7 linked regions of the Homo sapiens genome follow. The protein of the gene in region 6 interacts with the protein of the main gene of each other region in a pairwise test. Each region holds a gene or a part of one and is shown on either strand. Other genes may lie near its edges. The genes, in order: KRTAP5-7, FRS3, REL, FHL5, TRIM23, DMRT3 and PSMA3.

Region 1 (3,088 bases), on a different chromosome or scaffold from region 6:
CCCACCCCTCACTCCAGTGTACCCTGGATGTGGGACTGGGAGTCCAAGGACATTATTTTGGAGCTTTAAGATTTAATGGCTGCCCTGCTGGATTTCAGACATGCATGGGGTCTGTAGCCCCTTCCTTTGGGCTGATTTCTCCCTTTTGGAATGGGAATGTTTACCCAATGCCTCCACCCTCATGTATCTTCAAAGTAAATAATGTGTTTTGATTTTCACAAGTTCATTGGTGGAAGGGACTTGGACTTGGGACTTTGGACTTGATGTTGGAATGAGTCAAGACATTGAGAGGACTGTTGGGAAGAGATGATTCTATTCTGCAATGTAAGGACATGAGATTTGAGGGGTCAAGGGGATAATGATACAGTTGGGATGTCCCCTCCAAATCTCTTGTCGAAATGTAATCCCCAGTGTTGAAGGAGGGGCCTGCAAGGAGGTGTTTAGGTCATGGGGGCGGATCCCTCATGACTGGCTTAGCGCCATCTCCTTGGTGATGAGTGTGTTCACTCAGATCTGGTTGTTCGCAAGTGTGTGGCCCCTCCTCACCCCTTGCTCCCACTCTCACGATGTGGTGAGCCTGCTCCTGCTTCACCTTCCACCATGAGGAAAAGCTCCCTGAGGGCCTGCCCAGAAGCTGAGCAGAGGTGGGTGCCATGCTTGTGCAGCCTGCAGAACCATGAGCCATTCTAACCTTTCCTTTATAAATTACCCAGCTTCAAGTATTTCTTTAGAGCAATGCAAAACTGAGAATGGCATGAGTAAAATATAAAGACCATGGATAATTTTGAAATCTAAAAATGTGAAATTAATATTCCTGGGGGAGTCAACACAGGAAAGATGAGAGCACGTGGGCAAAGGCTGTTGCCCATTGGTCACATGTGGTCAGCAGAGAGCAGGTGACCAGCACCCTGGAGCTTTGCGGGAAGCACCAGACAGCCTGGAGCTGAGGTTTCAATTGTAGGGGCCAAAACAAATAGGGAAAAAGACAAATTTAGTAAACAAAGAAAGTAGATGCTCAACTGAGCCAGGAGGAAGTCACTAGCAAAGAGGAAAAAAAATAGAGCTCTGGAAAAATAGCGTAAACAGTCACAAGGAAGCGACCCTGTATTGTGCCTGACCTCTGGACAGGTATATAAAGAGCCCGGGCTCAGGGGGCTCCACACCTGCACCTCCCTCTCACCTGCTCCTCTACCTGCTCCACCCTCAATCCACCAGAACCATGGGCTGCTGTGGCTGTTCCGAAGGCTGTGGCTCCGGCTGTGGGGGCTGTGGCTCCGGCTGTGGGGGCTGTGGCTCTGGCTGTGGGGGATGTGGCTCCAGCTGCTGTGTGCCCGTCTGCTGCTGCAAGCCCGTGTGCTGCTGTGTGCCAGCCTGTTCCTGCTCCAGCTGTGGCTCCTGTGGGGGCTCCAAGGGAGGCTGTGGCTCCTGTGGGGGCTCCAAGGGGGGCTGTGGCTCTTGTGGGGGTTCTAAGGGGGGCTGTGGTTCTTGTGGCTGCTCCCAGTGCAGCTGCTATAAGCCCTGCTGCTGCTCCTCAGGCTGTGGGTCATCCTGCTGCCAGTCCAGCTGCTGTAAGCCCTGCTGCTGCCAGTCCAGCTGCTGTAAGCCCTGCTGCTGTTCCTCAGGCTGTGGGTCATCCTGCTGCCAGTCCAGTTGCTGCAATCCCTGCTGCTCCCAGTCTAGCTGCTGTGTCCCCGTGTGCTGCCAGTGTAAGATCTGAGGCTCTGGACTCAGGTCTCATGTGAGTCCTGCTAACCCCATTTTCCGAAGCTGTGACCTGTCCTTCATCGTTGAGCCCCAAACCACTGCTCAGGGTCCATTCCTCACTATAAGATGAAGCCATATCTGCCTGCCTTTTCCTAAGGAGAGTCCACCCTAATTAATGTCCATTCCCTCCTAACAAATTCTCTTCCCAAGTCAACTGCAACTGCGGCTGAATCACCCCTCACCCGCTAGCCTTGCCTTTGCTTGTGTATTCAGAGGCCTGAGCTCCTGAACCCACTTGAAGTCCTGTCTTTTCCAGCTGGAGCAGCTGGGCATGAGTGTCCCACCTGCAACAAGGTGGGCGTTTAAGAGGCTTCCTTGGAGTGGCTTTGCCTGTCCAACACTCTGCTTTATCTTAAATGAAAAGTTGCAAACTAATAAAAATACCATGCCGACAAACTGAAACACATATCTTGCTGATTTCTCTGTTGTTCGGGGTCATTACTATGGCTATGGCTATTGTTTTCTTGTTCTTGTTGTGTTTCGGACTGCGTGGGTCTGATGCTGATGTTGCTGGAAGGTGCTAGGATGGGGCTGGCTGTCTCCTCTGCCTCTCATCTCCTTCCTGGCTGACCCCTCTTTTCTCAGAACCCCTCTCTTCCTAGGTCTTTCCAGCTATTGATCTGATGGAGACAGGACTGTTCCTCAGGCCAGGGCCACAGAAGCAGAAGAGGCTGCTGAAAACTCTGGGGAGTTCAGACTTGCCTCCTTTCCCTGGTCCAGGCCTCTGCCATCTTCCTTTGGGAAGTTTTTGTAACCAACTTACTCTGATTGTCTTTGTTGTTACACAGCCTGTTGCCTCTGTAAATAAACACTCCTAGCACCAAGCCAATATTGCTTTTTAAGAATTTTGAAAGGGCCGGGCGTAGTGGCTCACGCCTATAATCCCAGCACTTTGGGAGGCCGAGGCAGGCGGATCACTTGAGGTTAGGAGTTTGCGACCTGACTGGCCAACATGGTGAAACCCTGTCTCTACTAAAAATATAAAAATTAGCTGAGTGTGGTGGCACGTGTCTGTAATCCTGGCTACTTCGGAGGCTGAGGGAGGAGAATGGCTTCAACCTGGGAGGGGGAGGTTGTGATGAGTCGAGGTCGCGCCACTGCACTCCATTCTGGGCGACAGAGCAAGACTCCGTCAAAAAAAAAAAAAGGCAATATTAATAGAGTTGAATTATTTCAAGTTATTTGGAAACACAGCAATTTATTGGTGGGATATGTCCTAAGCATAGAAAGAACACAAAAATAAAATTCCTAAGCTATTTTTAGTAGTCATGGTGGCAGCAGTGGTGTCGTTATTCTGCTGTGAATGCTGTATGGAAAAAGCAAA
Region 2 (3,500 bases), on a different chromosome or scaffold from region 6:
CAGGCGTGGTGGCTCACGCCTGTAATCCCAGCACTTTGGGAGGCCGCAGCAGGCCGATTACCTGAGGTCAGGAGTTTGAGACCAGCCTGACCAACATGGTGAAACCCCGTCTCAACTAAAAATACAAAAAATTAGCCAGGTGTAATGGCGGGCGCCTGTAATCCCAGCTACTTGGGAGGCTGAGGCAGGAGAATTGCTTGAACCTGGGAGGCAGAGGTTGCAGTGAGCTGAGATCGCACCATTGCACTCCAGCCTGGGCAACAAGAGCAAAACTCCATCTCAAAAAAGAAAAGAAAAAGAATGCTCAAGATGAGGAGAGGCTCTCCTGCCCCTACAGGCCTGGGACTGGAGTTGAGGGACATTTCCTGCACATTGTGCATCTGTTGAGCTCCTCTGGTCCTTCCCTATTGCCTAGGGTCATTTCTTCCTCTCCTTCTCCAGGAATATTTGCATTTAAGTGTTCCCGGGCTGAGGAAATCTTCAACCTCCTTCAGGATCTGATGCAGTGCAACAGCATCAATGTGATGGAAGAGCCTGTCATCATCACCCGCAATAGCCACCCCGCTGAGCTTGACCTCCCTCGAGCCCCCCAGCCACCCAATGGTGAGGAGACCCCAGTGTACACACACACACACACACACACACACACACACACGCCCAGGAAGCACAAATCTGAGGGACTAGTTAAGCTGGCTGGTTGGGAGAAGGCTGGGTGAGCCAACCTTCCAGGACAGTTGTCCATGATCAGAACCATTCTTGAGGATCGGTAAGTCCTGGGCTGGGCTAGGTGACTCAAACTGAGGTTGTTGAGTTCTGGGCCTTGTATTGACTGATGGTTGGGGAGCAGACAGGAAGACTTTGGGTTTCCGTAGAATTGGCAGTCTGGAGTTTTTTTGCTTTCTTCCTCTGTCTATTGGGTCATCCCCATATACCTTCCTTGCTGCTGGTGCAGGCATCTCTGGCCATGACCGTATTCTGGAGAGGGTCCTACAATTTCTGCTTATTCAGTCATTGAATTCAGATCAGGTACCTGTTTGGTATTCAGCGCTCCTTGGACTGGCCCATGGGGGACAGGAGAAATAGAAGCGCAGTCCCTTTTTTTGAGGAGCTTCCCTGGACCTTACTGGCAGACCTAGAATGAAGCAAAGGGACGGTCCAGTGACAGCAAGATGTGCTTTATGCGTTTCGGGTGAGGCTATAATGGAGACAGTGGTGAGGTGCTTCAAGCTGAGCTTGAGGGAAAGGGCAGGGTTTGAAGAGCAGAGGAAAGATGAAGGATAATGGGGGGCTGGTGGCTCAGTGGGGTTTAACCACTGTGACGCCCTGAGAACATCTGTCCTCCATTAGAGGAGTCCCAGGATGCCACACACACAGCTGCAAGTGGTTGTCAGGTGGCTTAAGTTCCCCTCTCCTGGGCTTGTCTCCCGTGTGCTCAGCTCTAGGCTACACTGTCTCCAGCTTTTCCAATGGCTGCCCTGGAGAGGGCCCACGATTCTCAGCTCCCCGGCGGCTCTCGACAAGCAGCCTGCGGCACCCCTCGCTTGGGGAAGAGTCCACCCATGCCCTCATTGCTCCTGATGAGCAGGTGAGCACGCAGCCGGCCAGCCCCTGCCCTGTTGGTCTGGGTGGGGACGAGGGATAGGAAATAAGGCCACCTCCTCCCAGTAAGGATCACGGGAAGGGGAAGAACATTGTAACGGTCCCTTCCTGTCCCCAAAAGGGAGCAGCTTCCTCAGAAGGGTTGGAGGACAAGGAAGAAGAAACTCCAGGTCTTTTTCTGTGTGCTTCTTTTCTCTCATCCTGTCCCTTCTGTTCTCTTTTCTCCCTGCCCTGGGACACTCCTGCCTCACTTGGACTCTTTCCCCAGTCCCACACCTATGTCAACACACCGGCCAGTGAAGATGACCACCGCAGGGGCCGCCACTGCCTGCAGCCCCTGCCTGAGGGTCAGGCACCCTTCCTCCCGCAGGCCCGGGGACCTGACCAACGGGACCCACAGGTGTTCTTGCAGCCAGGCCAGGTGAAGTTTGTGTTGGGCCCGACCCCTGCTCGGCGGCACATGGTGAAGTGCCAGGGCCTCTGTCCCAGCCTGCATGACCCCCCACACCACAATAATAACAATGAGGCCCCTTCTGAGTGTCCAGCCCAGCCCAAGTGCACCTACGAGAACGTCACCGGGGGGCTGTGGCGAGGGGCTGGCTGGAGACTGAGCCCAGAGGAGCCGGGCTGGAATGGCCTTGCCCACCGCCGGGCCGCCCTGCTGCACTATGAGAACCTGCCCCCACTGCCCCCTGTGTGGGAAAGCCAAGCCCAGCAGCTGGGAGGGGAGGCTGGGGATGATGGGGACTCGAGGGATGGGCTCACACCCTCTTCCAATGGCTTCCCTGATGGTGAGGAGGACGAGACCCCACTGCAGAAGCCCACCAGCACCCGGGCCGCCATCCGCAGCCACGGCAGCTTTCCTGTGCCACTGACCCGCCGCCGCGGCTCCCCAAGGGTCTTCAACTTTGATTTCCGCCGGCCGGGGCCCGAGCCCCCAAGGCAGCTTAACTACATCCAGGTGGAGCTAAAGGGCTGGGGTGGAGACCGCCCTAAGGGGCCCCAGAACCCCTCGAGCCCCCAAGCCCCCATGCCCACCACCCACCCTGCCCGAAGCTCAGACTCCTACGCCGTGATTGACCTCAAAAAGACCGTGGCCATGTCCAACCTGCAGAGAGCTCTGCCCCGAGACGATGGCACCGCCAGGAAAACCCGGCACAACAGCACCGACCTGCCTCTGTAGGGACTTCCCGGTCCTCACCACCCTCTGCCCCACCATGATCCAGCCTCTGCCTCACACTCCTGTCCTCTGAACCCACCCTCCCCAGGGTTCAGGGTTGCTTTGCAGAAGGCATGGAGGTGGGACCAGATGCTTCCCTGTGCTGGCTGGAGTCCCCAGAGATATCAGCCACCGAGTCTCCTGGTCTGTCTCCAGGCTGGGGAGAGAAGGGTGACCAGGCGAGGAGGGAGCCGAGACGTCAACTGTGAAGGGTTCCTGTGATTGCGTTTAGCGCCCTCCCGTTCTGTCCATTTGTCTTGTCTGCCGACTGTCCGTGTGTGTTTTTTTTGGTTGGAATTTTGAAACATTTTGTACCTGTTGATTTTATTTATCAGTTTATTTTTCTATTTATTGTTTTAAATGTAATTTAACATATTTATTATTAATATAATTATTTTTAAATTCTGGCCCAGTGGATATCATCTTCTTAGGGAATCTTTTCTGGTGTGGTCCTGGGTTGGACACAGGGCAGGCCTAATCGAGGTAAGGGCTTCACTCTGGGGAATTTGGGTCAGTTATGGTTTTTGTGACAAGTCCATGATTTTTTTTTTTTTTGAGACAGAGTTTCGCTCTTGTGGCCCAGGCTGGAGTGCAGTGGCGTGATTTCAGCTCACTGCAATCTCCACCTCCCGGGCTCAAGCAGTTCTCCCGCCTCAGCCTCCCAAGTAGCTAGAGTTACAGG
Region 3 (3,500 bases), on a different chromosome or scaffold from region 6:
CCACCCTGTCACTGTGAAACTTTGGGCAAGTAATTCATCTCTTTACAGTCAGTTCCAGGCCAGGCTCAGTGGCTCACGCCCATAATCCCAACACTTTGGGAGGCCAAGGTGGGTGGATCACTTGAGCCTGGGAGTTTGAGACCACCCTGGGCAACATAGTGAAACCCCATCTCTACAAAAAAATAGAAAAATTAGCTGGGCGTGGTGGCATGTGCCTGTAGTCCCAGCTACTCAGGAGGCTGAGATGGGAAGATCACTTGAGCCTGGGAGGCGGAGGTTGAGGTGAACCAAAATCGCATCACTGCACTCCAGCCTGGGCAACAGAGTGAGACCCCCATGTCAAAAAAACGAACTAAACTCAGTTCCTCGTTTGTAAAATGGGGATGAAAGTAATTCTTGTACAGATTTAGGAGATAATTTACAGAGTCCTTAACACAACAACTGGACCAAATACATACTTGTTGAATGAATGGGTAAATGCCATTCTTTGTTGTGTACAAACCTGCAACTATTTTTTAAAACTTTGATTTGTTATTAATGTCAACTTGGGATTTTGCTTTAAATCCCAGGTGAGGGGATAGTTACTTCCTGAACATGGCTATAATTTATCAAATACTGTTAGATAGTGATTACTTGATAAGAATGATAAAAGGCATTCTTGAGATTGTATACTGTTCTATTTTTATTCATACATATTTGGATGCTATTCAAGGTTATTGGCTATAATGGGCAGGGAGGAGGACCTAGCAAGTCTTTAGGTCTATGTGACTATTACATTTAAAAAATTTTTTTTTTCTATTCAGTCCCTGAAAAACAGCTGAATGATATTGAAGATTGTGACCTCAATGTGGTGAGACTGTGTTTTCAAGTTTTTCTCCCTGATGAACATGGTAATTTGACGACTGCTCTTCCTCCTGTTGTCTCGAACCCAATTTATGACAACCGTAAGTACTTCATTTTCTTATATTTGTAGTCTTAACTTGTTTTTTGTAATAGTTTAATTCTTAAAATTATTTTGGTAATTAGGAAAACAATATATTCATGATAGGAAAACTTCCAGACATTAGAGAAATATATAACAGAAAGGAAATCTTCTCTAATCTCATCCTCCAGAGATAATCACTATCCTTAGGTGCATATTTTACCAGTTTCTTCTTCCTGTATATACACAGATACATTGTCATCATCATCATTTTTGACACAGTACAATTTTGGCAACTTAAAATCATAAGTGATGATTGTTTTAAAAACTAACTTTCTTCTTACCATATATCTTGGACATTTTCCTTTTAATCACCTTATTCTTTTCAGTAGCAGCATATTTTATTATGTAGTTATATCATAATTTTATTAATTACCCTCTTACAAGGCATTTGGTTTGTTTCTTTTCTCATTTTTTCTTTTTGGCCTAGCAAACTGTACTGCAATACATATTCTTGTATATTTTTTTTTATTGGTTTTTTTTTTTTTTTTGGAGACAGGGTCTCACTCTGTCACCCAGGCTGGAGTGCAGTGGTGCAGTCATGGCTCACTGCATGGCAAATGCTGGCTCAAAGGATATGGATATATCTCATTTTGAAAGATTATGAAACTTTCCCCCAAAATACTGTGTGTGTGTGTGTGTGTGTGTGTGTGTGTGTGTACGTGTGTGTGTGTGTACATAGACTTAGATATACGTCCACCAATGGTGTATGATATACCTGTTTTATGTGTAGAAGGATAGAGAGACTTAGGGCTATAAAGGAAGCATGAAAGTTGTATTGCCATAGGGAGATGTATTGCCATAGGGAAAATTGTATTGCCATGGGGATGTGGTCATGATTTATGAAGATTAATCTGGTGACAGTGGGTAGGATTGATTGGCGGAATCAGAATTTAGAAGCAGGGAGATGTAATTAGAGAATATGTCATTACCTAGAAATGAAGCCACAAAGTCTAAAGTAAAGCAGTTAGAAAGGAAGTGGACAGATAAATAGATGATTAATGTATTTAGTGTCATTTATCTATACACTAAAACTTTTATTCTGTGAATGCTTTTCCTCAAATTCTTCCCTGCAAAAAGAAATAAAATATTACTAAGGTAGCAACTCATTTTTTTGAAAATCCTTTATATTTAGGTGCTCCAAATACTGCAGAATTAAGGATTTGTCGTGTAAACAAGAATTGTGGAAGTGTCAGAGGAGGAGATGAAATATTTCTACTTTGTGACAAAGTTCAGAAAGGTATTTATTTATTTCATTGAATTTAGAATAAATTTTAGATTAATAGATGCAGTTACTTTGTTTTCCCATTTTTTTTTTTTTGGTTTCTTATTGACTAGATGACATAGAAGTTCGTTTTGTGTTGAACGATTGGGAAGCAAAAGGCATCTTTTCACAAGCTGATGTACACCGTCAAGTAGCCATTGTTTTCAAAACTCCACCATATTGCAAAGCTATCACAGAACCCGTAACAGTAAAAATGCAGTTGCGGAGACCTTCTGACCAGGAAGTTAGTGAATCTATGGATTTTAGATATCTGCCAGATGAAAAAGGTATGACATTTTGCTGGTAATAATTTATATATTTCTTGAAGTGGTCCTGCTAATAACATCTTCTTGTAATATTCATTTGAGTACAGTTATGTATATTCATAATTTATGTTTCTTTTCCTGGAAGCTTTCTGTTGGTTTTTTCTTTATGCTCTTTGCATCTCTTTATTTGTTGGGTTGTTTTTTGTTTTGTTTTGTTTTGTTTTTGAGACAGAGTCTCACTGTCACCCAGGCTAGAGTGCAGTGGCGCAATCTTAGCTCACTGTAACCTCCTCCTCCCGGGTTCAAGCGATTCTTCTGCCTCAGCCTCCTGAGTAGCTGGGACTATAGGCACGTGCCACCACGCTGGGCTACTACTTTTGTATTTTTAGTAGAGACAGGGTTTCACCATGTTGGCTAGGCTGGTCTCTGCATCTCTTTCTTCAAGAAGAGGTTTGATTAGTATGGAATAATTTCAAAGTATCTAAACTGCTTACTAAAATTTCTATTTTATTTTTGAAGGTCTGTTTTAGTCTTTGTGCACTTACCACTCAGAGAGTAGTCTCTATATTGGTTTCTTATCAAACCTTATTGCATTAGTTGACATTATTGACTTGTGTGATAAGAAAACAAGATGAATATTTTAAACAGCTTGTTTTGGGTTTTTTTTGAGACAGGGTCTCACTCTGTCACTCAAGCTGGAGTACAGTGGCATGATCGTGGCTCACCAGAGCCTCAGCCTCCTGGGCTCAGGTGATCATCCCACCTCAGCCTCGTGAGTACCTGGGACTATAGGTGCGCACCACCACACTTGGCTAATTTTTGTGGGGTTTTTTTGTTTTTTTGTTTTTTTGTTTTTGAGATGGAGTCTTGCTCTGTCTTGCCCAGGCTGGAGTACAGTGGCGCAATCCTGGCTCACTGCAGCTTCTGCCTCCTGGGTTCAAGCAATTCTCCTGTCTCAGCCTCCCAGGTAGCTGGGACTACAGGCATG
Region 4 (3,500 bases), on a different chromosome or scaffold from region 6:
TTCCCTCACGCTACTAGCACAACCTACTGACATGAGAGTCCCAGGAGTGTTCAGTTTTGTTTCATAAAATGGCCTGTATTGTCACAACCACATTTAATTAACTTTTATTTACTGTCTCAAAGGATCTTTGTTACAAAGACCGGCACTGGCATGAAGGATGCTTCAAGTGCACCAAATGCAATCACTCTTTGGTGGAAAAGCCTTTTGCTGCCAAGGATGAGCGCCTGCTGTGCACGGAGTGCTATTCTAACGAGTGCTCCTCCAAGTGCTTCCACTGCAAGAGGACCATCATGCCTGGTAGGGTCTCAAGGGGGCTCCTGTCTCTAACTGAAGCTGTGATGCTTTTCATTAAGTCCCAGCACATGAGGAGTGCAGCAGCTCCCAAAACCCTGGTTTTGAGAAAGATATCTTTCTTACTCTCTCAATCTTCTTCCGTGTACTTTAGAAATAAAAAGATTATTCATTCATTATCCTTGAACAGGTAAATTACAGTGTTCTGTGTATTTTCATATAGTCTAATTCATAGAAACATTTCAAACCAGAATCTTACCCATAAAATAAAGACAAAATGTATACCAATAACACTACATTAAACACAGTGCCCTAGGCACAATCAATGGCATCAGAAAGAGTGATTCATCATAGGCGATTGGGGCCAACTGCCATTTTGTAGCTTGACACAAACTGTTTTGAGGATCGGTTATTGTTATTCTCTCTTAGGGAAGACAGGGTTCATGTATATCATTCCACTTTTGGCAAGGACTAATTCTTTATATTTTGATCTTCTCAATCTCTATGGTCAGCAGCATAAGAACATAATTCATTCTCTGCCACTCTTGCTCTCTCATTTTCTTATTATGGATTCAGAGAATTTCTAGAAGGCCATAACTGCACAGTATAGTCTCAGTAGTTGTGCTCTGGGCATTTTTAATACCCTTGTAATGATTATTATGGCCCAATTTATCCAAACCATGTGAAACCATTAGGAGTCTCCATTAAAAGTACTTTTACATCTCCAGATTATAGGTTATGCAGAGCTTGAAAAAGTTTTCAGTCTAAGAGTGATTCTCCATCATCATGGCTAAACTTTATTAACCATTTTTTTTTCTCCAGATGAATGGGTTTTTTTGAACCTGAAAAAATACTATTTTTCTAAAAGGACAATTCATTTATCATCTTAACTTAAAACGTTTTTAAGTAATTTGATCTGTATTTGCTTAAAAAATAAAATTATGCTTGACTTATACTAACATGGCCTTACTTTTGGAGTACAGGTTCCCGCAAAATGGAATTTAAGGGAAACTACTGGCATGAAACCTGTTTTGTGTGTGAGAATTGCCGACAACCTATAGGGACAAAGCCTTTGATCTCCAAAGAGAGTGGCAATTATTGTGTGCCATGTTTTGAGAAGGAGTTTGCTCACTACTGCAACTTTTGTAAGAAGGTAATTTTCTAAAGAGGGTGAAGCTTGTGGAAACTCAGACTATTTCTTTTTAGCTGTATCATATATTTAGAATGAACTGATACTATTATGTTATATCTGTAATCAACACACCCATGGTAGTTTGGACTTTCAACATGTCCAAACCACTAGTTGTCACGATGAGCATGACCATCTTTTTTTTTTTTATTAACCATAAAATTCCAGCCACAACAAGAATTTAATATTCCAAACAGCTCAAGTGATTTGGTATTCCAGTTCATTTCACTGTTTTTTGTTGTTGTTGTTGTTTTATTTTTTTGGGATGGAATCTCGCTCTGTCACCCAGGCTGGAGTGCAGTGGTACAATCTCGGCTCACTGCAACCTCTGCCTTCCAGGTTCAAGAGATTCTCATGTCTCAGCCTTCCAAGTAGCTGGGATTACAGGTGCGTGCCACTGTGTCCAGCTAATTTTTGTATTTTTAGTAGAGACAGGGTTTCACCATGTTGGCTAGTCTGGTCTCGAACTCCTGACCTCAGGTGATCCACCTGCCTTGGCCTTCCAAAGTACTGGGATTACAGGCATGAGCCACCACACTCGGCCCATTCACTGCTTTTATACAAGATCTCACGTATTCTGGGAGAAAGCACAGGTCTCTCTTTGAATACAGATGTTTCTTAAAAAATAATGTTTGATCTATTCAGTATTAACTGTTTCAGAGAAATATGGATTTGCCTCACAAAGTGACTAAGGGAACCAAGTTAAACAGGATGTTTAACTTCTCACATTCTTTCTCAGCAATGCAAATGTCTTCTTGACTTGAAGCTTTTGTATTTCCTATGAGTAGGGCAATCGGCTCAAGAGAGTGCCAAGATCATGGGGGAAGTTCAGTAGACAAAAGACAGAAAGAAGACTAAGAGCAGCAAGTTCCTTCACTCCAGTTCCAGGATCATGTAGGGCCTTCTGACTTGGCTTCCCACTCAAAAAAAACATTTTCTAAGAGAAAAAAAAAGTAATATTTTTGAAGTAAACTTCATCCAATTCTTTTTTTATCCTCTAAGCTTTTATGTGAAAAAGTAGCTCTAACACCTTGATGAAGCCTGTCTGCATTCCATAAAATATATATGGAGGTTCTCAAAGAAATCCTTGACCTGCGAGGCATCATAAGTTTAAAATGACACCATAAATTGTCATGAGAAAGCTGAATCATGAAAATACATTGGATTAGTATAGTGGTTTCAAAGTATTTTTTATCTGTGGGTTACTTTGGCAGAACTCTTAAGCCCATTTGTATATCTGGACAGCTGGAAGTCACACTACCACTTTCTATGCACACATATGTGAACACACATGCACATACACACACACACACACACACGCAGTTAACTGTTTAACATACATAACCAATACCACTACTGCATTTAAAGAGGCAGCAATACACTATGCTAAGTTATCATTATTAAATTACACTATGTTGATGGCTGAGAATTACAATTGATCACATGACATAAAATAATCTTATGACTGAGACCTTCATTACTCTACCAAAACACTGGCTTAGAAGGTGACTTTACAAGCAGCAATCAAGCCATATGACATATGAAGCTCCAAAGAATTACCAGGGTCAATGACGGCATTTAAAAACATGCTGGAGCTGGGCATGGTGGCTCACGTCTGTAATCCCAACACTTTGGAAAGCCAAGGTGGGAAGATTGCCTGAGGCCAGGAGTTCAAGACCAGCCTGGGCAACATAGTGACACCCTGTCTGTATAAAAAAAAAAAAAAGTTTAAAAATTAGCCAAGTATGGTGACACGTGCCTGTAGTCCCAGCTACTTGGGTGGCTGAGGCAGGAGGATCACTTGGGCCCAGAAATTCAAGGCTGCAGTGAGCTATGATTGAGCCACTGTACTCCAGCCTGGGTGACAATGAGATCCTATCTCTAAAAAATATACAAAACTTAAAAACTAAAGAAAATAAAATCTTGCTGGAAATAAAATGAATAGGTTTATCTCACTGTTTTGAGAGACAACTGAGTTGGCCAATTTTAGGCTGCATTTCTTAAAGACAGACTAAAACAG
Region 5 (3,500 bases), on a different chromosome or scaffold from region 6:
TCTCATCTCGAATTGTAATCCCCACATGTCAAGGGAGGGACATGATTGGATTATTGGGGCAGTTTCCCTCATGCTGTTCTCATGATAGTGATTAATCATGACATCTGATGGTTTTAAAGTGTGGCACCTCTCCTTTGCTCTCTCTTTCTCTCCTGCCGTCCTGTAAACAAGGTGCTTGCTTCCCCTTCGCCTTCCCCCATGATTGTCTAACTTTCCTGAAGCCTCCCCAGCCATGCAAACCTGTAAATTAAGCCCCTTTCCTTTATAAATTACCCAGTCTCAGGTAGTATCTGTAAAGCAGTGTGAAAATGGACTAATATACCAGTCATTTTGGCACAACACTTCAGAAACTCTAAAATACTTAAATATTTCAGTAACTATGAACAAACTTTTTCATAAAATAAATATGAAAATACTTTTAAGTGTTCAAGTAAATATGATTTAGGACATGACTCCACTCTGATTTTGCTATGTAGCTTCATTATCCGCCATGAGTTAAACATGTATTTATTAAGCTCTTTCTATCTAGATGCAAAGAATTTAGTGACACAAAGATGAACAAGATGCATCAAAGATGAACAAGGTCAGCATCTAAAACACATAGGCATATTGTGTCATTCAAGGTCAAATCGGAAGACACAAATCACACCATTACTTGAATAGAAAGAACTTAAAATAAAAACTGTTAACTAGGTGTAGTTATTAACTAGGTAGCTAAAAGGTTAAAAGGAACTCTGAGGTATTAAGGAGGTAGCAATTGTATGAAATAACATAGCTACCACTTCCAGTGCTAAAGGAATAAAAGGAAGAAGTTAGAATTATTAAAACTTAGAAACTTGCAGGAGTGGCTCATGGAGCTGAAACTCAAACCTCCGAGAAGGGTGGTCTCCTCACATGAGTAACTATGCCCCCTCTTGACAGTACCTAACATGGGCCCAGCTGGCAACACAATTATGAGGTCTGTAGAGTTCTAGCCCTAGTATCACAAAATAGAGGATAGAAGAGTAGGTTTGGAGCTGAAAATCAACTTAATAAATAGCATACATATCAACTGTTACAATTCAGTGTGGTAAGGACTAAATGATAACCCAAGACTGATGAGGCTATAGACTGGCCACTCTCATGTAAGTGTAATCACATATTTAAGAGAAAAAGCTCTACAATGGTACAAGGCTTAGCCTACAATGATTTGAAATCAACACAATTATTAGCAATATATCAGTGAAGATAACACAGACTGCAGCTTTTCTGAAATTCCTAGGGCAATAGTTATTCTTATACCTCACACTTATGAAAACAGATCCAAAACACAAATGGGTAAAGCTGACATTTGTGTTAGAATAACTGAATCTCATTTATTTAAAAAAGTAAGTCATCTGCAAACTGGGTAACAAATTTCTTATGGTATCTCAACCATCACAAAACATACGTTTGCTCTAACAGTGAAGAACCACTGAATTATAGCAGACGTAGGCAGTACATGGTAGAGAGGCACTCAAAAAAAGACCAACAAATAGAAAGCTTCAAAGAAAGGCAAATATTTAAGCTGGACCTTGAAGGAGAAGGAAGATTTCCACTATTAGAAAAGAGAGATATATGCACTCCAAGCAGAAAAAAAAAAAAAACTACATATATGCTTGGCAAAGAAGAGTAAAAGGATTTGGCATAACTGAAGAATGGCAAGAAGTTAGAAGGCCTCAAGAACCCATGGCTTATGGTGGGAAAGGCACGTGAACGACACTGATAATTCCATACTAGTGAAATAATTCAAGGTTGCAGACCATTTCCTAAGCACAAAGTTACTGCATACAGCAGACACAAAATATTAATAAAACACACTAATGTATACCTCTGGTAATTATCTACTTAAACTTACAACTAAGTCCCTAACCACATTTAAACTACCTACCTGCTGCAAAGTCTTTTCACAGTGGAGGCAGGCTGCAGAAACCTCTGACAACAAAATAGTCATATCTTCTTGTTGCTGCCTGAGCCAAATCAATTTTTCACGAACATGAGCATCAACAACACTTAGAGCCATTTCTTCTTGACGACACAGAGTTTCATGTAGATCATAAAAATAAGCTCGAATACATGACCGGGCATTCTCTGCAGTCCCTGGTACCTAAGAAAATGAAAATAAATTTTAAGCAACTGTAATGTTAATAAAGATTTTACCTGTGAAATATTTAAAATTTCAGCCTAGGCAACATGGCAAAACTCTGTCTCTACAAAAAATGGAAAAAATTAGCCAGCCGTGGTGGCATGTGCCTGTAGTCCCAGCTACTCAGGAGGCTGAGGCGGGAGGATTGATTGAGCCCCAGAAGTCAAGGCTGCAGTGAGTGGTGATCACAACACTGCATGCCAGCCTGGGTGACCGAGCGAGACATTGTTTAAATACCATCTATATTAAATTCCAAAATATAAATCTCCATGCTAGATCTTTCCCCTAATGCACAGACATTGGAAATTCAACTGTTTATAAATGACATCTCAAGCAAAATGGAATGCCTAATCTCCAGTCTCCCCTATTCCCAAACCTAATTGCCTCTGTCTTGGTAAATGGCAACTCCATCCTTCAGGATGTTGAAGCAAAAACAACCGGAGTCATCATTATCAGCTCTCTTTCATAGCCCACTAGTCCCTCAGCAAATTCTGCTGACTTCAAAATACACCCAAAATCTGATCATGCCTCATCACCTCTAAGTTACCTATCCAATCAATATTAACAATTAATCACTAAGACCTATCTATTCTACTTATTTAAAATCTCAAATCCATTGACTTGTGTCCACTCTCACTACCCTAGTGTATTATAGGCCATAAACATCTCTAGTATTTTAACTAGAAAACTTTAACAACATCCTAATAGGTCTGCCTGCTTCCAATTTTGTTGCTCCTCCAATTCATTTTCTACATTTAAAACAACCTTTCTTGAGGAAAATCTGATTATATCATTCCTAAGTCAATTCTTCAATGGCTCATCACTGTCCTTAAACTAAGTTCTGAACTCTTTAACATGGCTGACAAGATCCTGCATGATTTGGCTTTGAACTCTCCATATCCTCTTTTCTTGTCATGTCCCATTCAATACTTAAAGCTCTAACTACAGTGAGCTTCTTTAAGTCTCTACAATATGTACAATCCTCACTTACAAACATTTTAACATATTGTTCCCTTCTTGGGACAACTCATTCCCCGTTCTGCTCTTTTCCCTGACTGAAATTCTTCAAATCTCAGTTTAAACACCATTTCTTCTATAAGGACTTCTCTGACCTCCATAAATCATTGTCCCTGTTTTGTGATGCCAAAGCACCCTGTACTTCTCCTCCATAAAATAGTTACCATATTTCAAACTCTCTCTTTTCCATGATGAATGAGTTCCTGAAAGACAGGGACTTTTAAAAAACTTTCTAATGATTGGTGCAATACTGGCAAATTGTAATTGCCCATTAATTACTTAGTAGAAGGTGAAAATATGAAAAATAAAAAAGAATGAG
Region 6 (2,789 bases):
GGCTGAGGCGGGTGGATCATGAGGTCAGGAGTTCGAGAGGAGCCTGGCCAACATAGTGAAACCCTGTCTCTACTACAAATACAAAAATTAGCTGGGTGTGGTGGCACACACCTGTAGTCCCAGCTATTCGGGAGGCTGACGCGGGAGAATCACTTGAACCCAGGAGGCAGAGTTTCCAGTGAGCCGAGACCATGCCACTGCACTCCAGCCTGGGTGACAGAGTGAGACTCTGTCTCAAAAAAAAAAAAAAAGTTGAGCTTTGAGCTTTCCAGCTGTGCCTATGTACGCTTTATTCCCAAGAAGGACTAGTTGTTTCTCTTGCTTAAAAAAATCTCTTCATTCTCTATATTACTATGACACTGTGTGGCATATATTTTTCTTTTTTTATTGTGGTAAAGTATATATAACATAAAGTTTACAATTTTAACCATTTTTAGGGGCACAATTCAGTGGCATTTATTCAAAATGTTGTGCAACCATCACCACCATCCATCTTCAGAACCTTTTCATCATTCCAGACGGAAACTCCATACCCATGAAACAATAACTCCCCATTCCCTTTTCCTCCAGCCCCTGACAACCACCACACTACTTTCTCTCTGAATTTCCCTATTCTTGGTATCGAATATAAGTAGAGTCATACAGTATTTGTCCTTTTGTGTCTGGCTTATTTCACTTAGCCTAATGTTCTCAAGGTTCATCCATGTTATAGCATGTATTGGAATTCCATTCCTTTTTAAGGCTGAATAATATCCCACTGTGTGTGTGTGTGTGTGTGTGTGTGTGTGTGTGTGTGTGTGTGTACACCACGTTTTATACATTCATGCACTGATGGACATTTGGGTTGCTTTCACCTTTTGGCTATTGTGAATGCTGCTGCCATGAACATTGGTATACAATGTGTGTCATATTTGAGGCTTAGCAAATGCTGCCAGGCCCTGTTTGCTTCTTCTCCTGCATGTGTGTCTTATTTCCCCAGCTAGAAGATAAGGTCCATAAGCTAGGTGTGGGTCTTACACTTCTTGGTGTTTTTCATCCTTTATTCTGTTTCTCCCAGTATCGTGCAGAAATATAAATACTTGGTGCTGATAATTACGCTAAAATTAAAAAATAAGGAAACTGTTTAGAAGTACATAGTATTTTAAAGAAGTACTTTATGTCCATATTTACATGGGGAGAGTATTTGACTTGTTTTTCCAATTTCTAAAAGTGATAGTATATTAATATGCTATCACTTTTCAAGTGTTTAATAATTTTCAAATGTTTAATAATAGAGTAACAGCCAAGAAGTATGTATGGGTCATGAGTCAGGAACATTTAAATAGATCTAGCTGATTATAAAGTAAATCTATAGAAGCCTTTTTGTTGCTGTTTTTCTCTTTTGAATCAAGGACATGAGTTCAAATACCACATTAACTCAAGAGGTAAAAGCTGTGTCCCCCATCCTAAGAAGTTGTAGGAGAGAATATGTCAAATTTCTCTTACAAAAATAGAGTCATTCTACAGTAGAGTCTTTCTATAGAGTCATTATATAAAGTGAAGATGGCTTCATATGTATGTGACGCAAATGAACCTCTCATTGGAAACCTTATATTTTATATTAAAAAAGAAGCAGTTTAATTAAAATGCAAATTTGGGATAAGTATGAATTCCTATCAGATGTATGTTGACACTTGCACTGAGGTAATTGAAGAGTGTTTTAAAGTGTATTTACTTATGTTTGCCACATATTTATTGCTTTGTTAAAGGCCAAAGTTTTGGTTTTTGGTTACATCTGAGATACATCCTGTATTAGAAGAATGTTTCTAAGTAGGCCTTTAAGGCTTTTAAAATAAATAACAAGTGTAGGAGAAGATGGTTTCTAGAAGGTGCTTTGATGAAATTTCACAAAGTTTTGTTTTTTGGTTACACTTAAGATACACCTGTATTAGAAGAATGTTCATAAGTAGGCCCTTAAGGCTTTTAAAATGACAAGTGTAGGAGAAGATTGTTTCTAGAGGGTGCTTTGATGAAATTTCACCGGCTGGCTATCTGTATATAATCAGGTGTGCCCACAGAGAAGGCAACAATGAAGCTATTCAGGCAGGGCAGCAGAAAACACAGGCAAAGCAATTGTTTACAACTCAACAACTGGGTCATTAGGAATTTTCATCTTTCGATCAGCTACCCTGGCTTTGAGTAGCCACAGCCAGCGCGTGTTTCAAAAAAGGACAAAACTCTATTTGCAAATAGCTTGCTACTAAAAAATATGTTTCTTTATTATAAAGTCCTGTTGGAATTTACTACTGCAAAGCAAACCACTCTGACTTACTCTTTTCTGTGTGCTTAGCCCTGCAATATTACCAGCTGTTAAGTAAAAATGTTCTTAGGTCAAGATGTTAAATTTGCAACTGGTTTACTTTATCGCAAGTCTCTGCTTTATTTGGGAAGCCTTTTTTTCCCTCCTTCTTCTTTTCATATAATATAAAAAGGTATCTTCAAATTTCACTGGCTTTAAAAAAAGGTATCTTCAAGTCCTTTCCATGAACTGTACCAGCAAAACAGTTCATGCACAGGTATCTGCCTCGTGCCACCCGTGGCGGTGGAGTGTGATGCGTTGTTTCATTGATGGATAATAATGCCCCCGTGCAATTTAACAAACCCTTTCTAGCCACTTCCTTTTTTCCTCTCCAGCAACTTATCCTGCCATCCGGAATTCATAGCTGGTTTCGTTTGCTTTCTAGTACAAGTTATTGGCAACCAAGTTTGCCAATGCCTCAAGTGGCTTCTTATGAAAGATTTCAATGGAT
Region 7 (3,500 bases), on a different chromosome or scaffold from region 6:
CAAGAGTGATAATAGTACTTGGCACATACAGTTGTTGTGAGGTTAAAAATTATTATGCAAAATGCTTAACATGTAATGAGTGCTCAGTATCTCTTAGTAATTATCATTATTACTATTACTGGGTAGCGTAGGAAAAAAAGGCTATTAAAGATTGTGATACCACTTTTAAATTCTGTAACTGTCCTGGGCTAGAGGGTTTCAAAAACTTGGTTGGTTTATGGTACCTTAAGTGTCTCAGTAGTTTTTCTCATGGCTTCCCTAGGCCGAAAATACCTAATGGTTTCATTTATTAAGTATTTAGATCCAAAGAACTTAGTGTTTACATCCTAAAAACTTAGTAGCCGTTTTTTTTTTTTAAATACACACATAGTGAAAAATATTTTTATTTAAAAATTAAAATGTTTTATTTTAAGCAACCAAAATTTCTAGTATATACACTGCACAACCTCCCAAATTTGGATGTGGCCACTGTCATTTCCTGTTCCACACTGATTTTTGCACAGTACTTACTTTTTTTCACAGCAACCACTAACAGCCAAGCTTCTCAAAGATGTGGTGGCATTGAAAGGAATGTAGTAAAACGATCTAATGTTCAAACGGAACTACTTGGACATTTTTCTCCAAACTTAGAATGTGCCACACTAGGCCAGGTGCAGTGGCTCACACCTGTAATCCCAGCACTTTCGGAGGCCAAGGCGGGCGGATCACCTGAGGTCGAAAGTTCAAGACCAGCCTGACCAACATGGAGAAACCCTGTCTCTACTAAAAACACAAAAATTAGCCGGGCGTGGTGGCGCATGCCTGTACTCCCAGCTACTCGGGAGGCTGAGGCAGGAGAATCCCTTGAACCTGGGAGGTGGAGGTTGCGGTGAGCCGCGATTGCACCACTGTGCTCTAGCCTGGGCAACAAGAGCAAAACTCCATCTCAAAAAAAAAGATATGCCACACTAACATGTGATTTCACTGCAGTGCCTGAGGACCTCTCGGCACATACATAGTAACTGCAATTCTGTTTTTGTTTTTGTTTTTGTTTTGAGACAAAGTCTCATTCTGTTGCTCAGGCTGGAGTGTAGTGGCGTGATCTCGGCTCACTGCAGCCTCCGCCTCCCGAGTTCAAGTGATTCTTGTGGCTCAGCCTTGGGAGTAGGTAGGATTATAGGTGCCCGCCACCAAACCTGACTAATTTTTGTATTTTTAGTAGGGGTTTCACCATGTTGTCCAGGCTGGTTTCAAACTCCTGACCTCAGGTGATCCCCCTGCCTCGGCCTCCCAAAGTGCTGGGATCACAGGCATGAGCCACCGTGCCCGGCCTAGTAACTGCAGTTCTAAGCCGCAAATCTTGAAAGAGGAATGGTTTATCATTGTAGTTTATTCAGCCAATAGGCTGAAAAAAGATTTGCGATTGTGCCTTTTAGAACAAAACAGTTACAGGTTGAGTATCTCTCGTCTAAAATGCTTGGGACCAGCAGTATATCGGATATTTTTCGATTTTGGAATATCTGCATTATATACTCATCAGCTGAGCATCCTTAATCTGAAAATTCAAAATCCAAAAAGCTCTACTGAGCATTTCCTTTTTTTTTTTTTTTTGAGATGGAGTCTCGCTCTGTTGCCCAGGATGGAGTGCAGTGGCGCGATCTCGGCTCACTGCAACTTCCGCCTCCCAGGTTCAAGCAATTCTCTGCCTCGGCCTCCCAAGTAACTGGGATTACAGGTGCCTGCAACCACGCCTGGCTAATTTTTGTATTTTTAGTAGAGACGGCATTTCACCATCTTGGCCAGGCTGGTCTTGAACTCGTGACCTTGTGATCCACCTGCCTCAGCCTCCCAAAGTGCTGGGATTACAGGTGTGAGCCACCAGGTCCGGCCTGAGCATTTCCTTTGAGTGTCATGTTGGCACTCAAAAAGTTTCAGATTCTGAAGCGTTTTAAATTTCAGATTTTTGGATTAGATATCCTCAACCTGTAATAACTTTAGAGAAAAGAACAAATTTGGGCCGGGCACGGCGGCTCACACCCATAATCCCAACATTTTGGGAGGCTGAGGCAGGCTGATCACCTGAGGTCAGGAGTTCAAGACCAGCCTGGCCAACATGACAAAACCAAACCCTGTCTCTACTAAAAATATAAAAATTAGCCAATCCCAGCTACTGGGGAGGCTGAGGCAGGAGAATCCCTTGAACCTGAGAGGCAAAGGTTGAAGTGAGCCCAGATGGTGCCATTGTGCTCCAGCCTAGGTGACACAGTGAGACTCTGTCTCAAAAAAAAAAAAAAAAAAAAATCTGACCAAGACCCATGGTTTTTATTCGTTATAATGAGGTAGTGGTAGTAAATCAGGGGAAGAGGATTTATGATAGAAGTAGTCCTGAATATTGGCCGGGCACGGTGGCTCACGCCTGTAATCCCAGCACTTTAGGAGGCTGAGGCAGGCAGATCACGAGGTCAGGAGATCAAGACCGTCCTGGCTGACATGGTGAAACCCCATCTCTACTAAAAATACAAAAAAATTAGCCGGGCGTGGTGGCAGGCGCCTGTAGTCCCAGCTACTCAGGAGGCTGAGGCAGGAGAATGGCATGAACCCAGGAGGCAGAGTGTGAAGTGAGCGGAGATCATGCCACTGTACTCCAGCCCTGGTGACAGAGCGAGACCCCGTATCAAAAAAAAAAAAGGAAATGTCCTGAATATGAACATTGGACAAAGCAATGAAGTTATACTTACTAAATTTCTAAATTATAATTTCATACTCAAGCATCAAAATGCCTTGTAGAGAGACCTTTAAGCCAAAAAAGTTTATTTTGAATGGTAATACTTGTTAAAAAAATGTTTAATAAGTCTTTATTAATTGCAGACTTTGATTTGTGATAGGAATGTGTTCCTCTAGTAAATTGGTGCTTTTTTTTCAGGCAGTAGCAGGTTTGTTGGCAGATGCTCGTTCTTTAGCAGACATAGCAAGAGAAGAAGCTTCCAACTTCAGATCTAACTTTGGCTACAACATTCCACTAAAAGTAAGTTGATAACATATTGAGGAACCTTTTGGACAGTAATAGAAGTTTATTAATAAGCTCTTCTGCTTCCCTCCATAGCATCTTGCAGACAGAGTGGCCATGTATGTGCATGCATATACACTCTACAGTGCTGTTAGACCTTTTGGCTGCAGGTAAGAAATTTTGTGAATTATTCAAAAGGCAGATCTGTACTATAGATATTTATTATGTTCCCCAGCATCTTAGCCTTTTACATACTTAAAAATAGAAACTCGTCGATAAGTATTAGGGCAATGATTAAATAAAACAGTGTACATAGAAACTACTTGAGGCTGGGTGCCATGGCTCAAGCCTGTAATCCCAGTACTTTGGGAGGTTGAGGTGGGAGGATCCCTCGCGCCCAGGAGTATGAGACCAGCCTGGCCAACGCAGTGAGAACCTATCTCTACAAAAAAAATTTAAAATTTAGCCAGGTGCAGTATCACATGCCTGTAGTCACAGCTACTTAGGAGCTGCT

What was found.
Region 1: the proteins of DMRT3 (region 6) and KRTAP5-7 interact in binary tests that used the Homo sapiens proteins (3 or more experiments, as listed by UniProt).
Region 2: the proteins of DMRT3 (region 6) and FRS3 interact in binary tests that used the Homo sapiens proteins (3 or more experiments, as listed by UniProt).
Region 3: the proteins of DMRT3 (region 6) and REL interact in binary tests that used the Homo sapiens proteins (3 or more experiments, as listed by UniProt).
Region 4: the proteins of DMRT3 (region 6) and FHL5 interact in binary tests that used the Homo sapiens proteins (3 or more experiments, as listed by UniProt).
Region 5: the proteins of DMRT3 (region 6) and TRIM23 interact in binary tests that used the Homo sapiens proteins (3 or more experiments, as listed by UniProt).
Region 7: the proteins of DMRT3 (region 6) and PSMA3 interact in binary tests that used the Homo sapiens proteins (3 or more experiments, as listed by UniProt).

Annotation. Positions count from the first base shown.
Region 1 is NC_000011.10:71,526,082-71,529,169, forward strand, and holds KRTAP5-7 (keratin-associated protein 5-7), read left to right. Parts: upstream 1-1,185; 5' UTR 1,186-1,219; coding exon 1,220-1,717; 3' UTR 1,718-2,588; downstream 2,589-3,088. UniProt on the Homo sapiens protein: In the hair cortex, hair keratin intermediate filaments are embedded in an interfilamentous matrix, consisting of hair keratin-associated protein (KRTAP), which are essential for the formation of a rigid and resistant hair shaft through their extensive disulfide bond cross-linking with abundant cysteine residues of hair keratins.
Region 2 is NC_000006.12:41,769,901-41,773,400, reverse strand, and holds the end of FRS3 (fibroblast growth factor receptor substrate 3), read left to right. Parts: intron 1-441; coding exon 442-603; intron 604-1,436; coding exon 1,437-1,585; intron 1,586-1,867; coding exon 1,868-2,782; 3' UTR 2,783-3,225; downstream 3,226-3,500. UniProt on the Homo sapiens protein: Adapter protein that links FGF and NGF receptors to downstream signaling pathways. Involved in the activation of MAP kinases. Down-regulates ERK2 signaling by interfering with the phosphorylation and nuclear translocation of ERK2.
Region 3 is NC_000002.12:60,916,074-60,919,573, forward strand, and holds part of REL (proto-oncogene c-Rel), read left to right. Parts: intron 1-803; coding exon 804-944; intron 945-2,117; coding exon 2,118-2,222; intron 2,223-2,320; coding exon 2,321-2,533; intron 2,534-3,500. UniProt on the Homo sapiens protein: Proto-oncogene that may play a role in differentiation and lymphopoiesis.
Region 4 is NC_000006.12:96,604,628-96,608,127, forward strand, and holds part of FHL5 (four and a half LIM domains protein 5), read left to right. Parts: intron 1-122; coding exon 123-297; intron 298-1,274; coding exon 1,275-1,444; intron 1,445-3,500. UniProt on the Homo sapiens protein: May be involved in the regulation of spermatogenesis. Stimulates CREM transcriptional activity in a phosphorylation-independent manner.
Region 5 is NC_000005.10:65,607,334-65,610,833, forward strand, and holds part of TRIM23 (E3 ubiquitin-protein ligase TRIM23), read right to left. Parts: intron 2,126-3,500; coding exon 1,910-2,125; intron 1-1,909.
Region 6 is NC_000009.12:986,655-989,443, forward strand, and holds part of DMRT3 (doublesex- and mab-3-related transcription factor 3), read left to right. Parts: intron 1-2,789. UniProt on the Homo sapiens protein: Probable transcription factor that plays a role in configuring the spinal circuits controlling stride in vertebrates.
Region 7 is NC_000014.9:58,254,843-58,258,342, forward strand, and holds part of PSMA3 (proteasome subunit alpha type-3), read left to right. Parts: intron 1-2,902; coding exon 2,903-3,004; intron 3,005-3,082; coding exon 3,083-3,156; intron 3,157-3,500. UniProt on the Homo sapiens protein: Component of the 20S core proteasome complex involved in the proteolytic degradation of most intracellular proteins. This complex plays numerous essential roles within the cell by associating with different regulatory particles.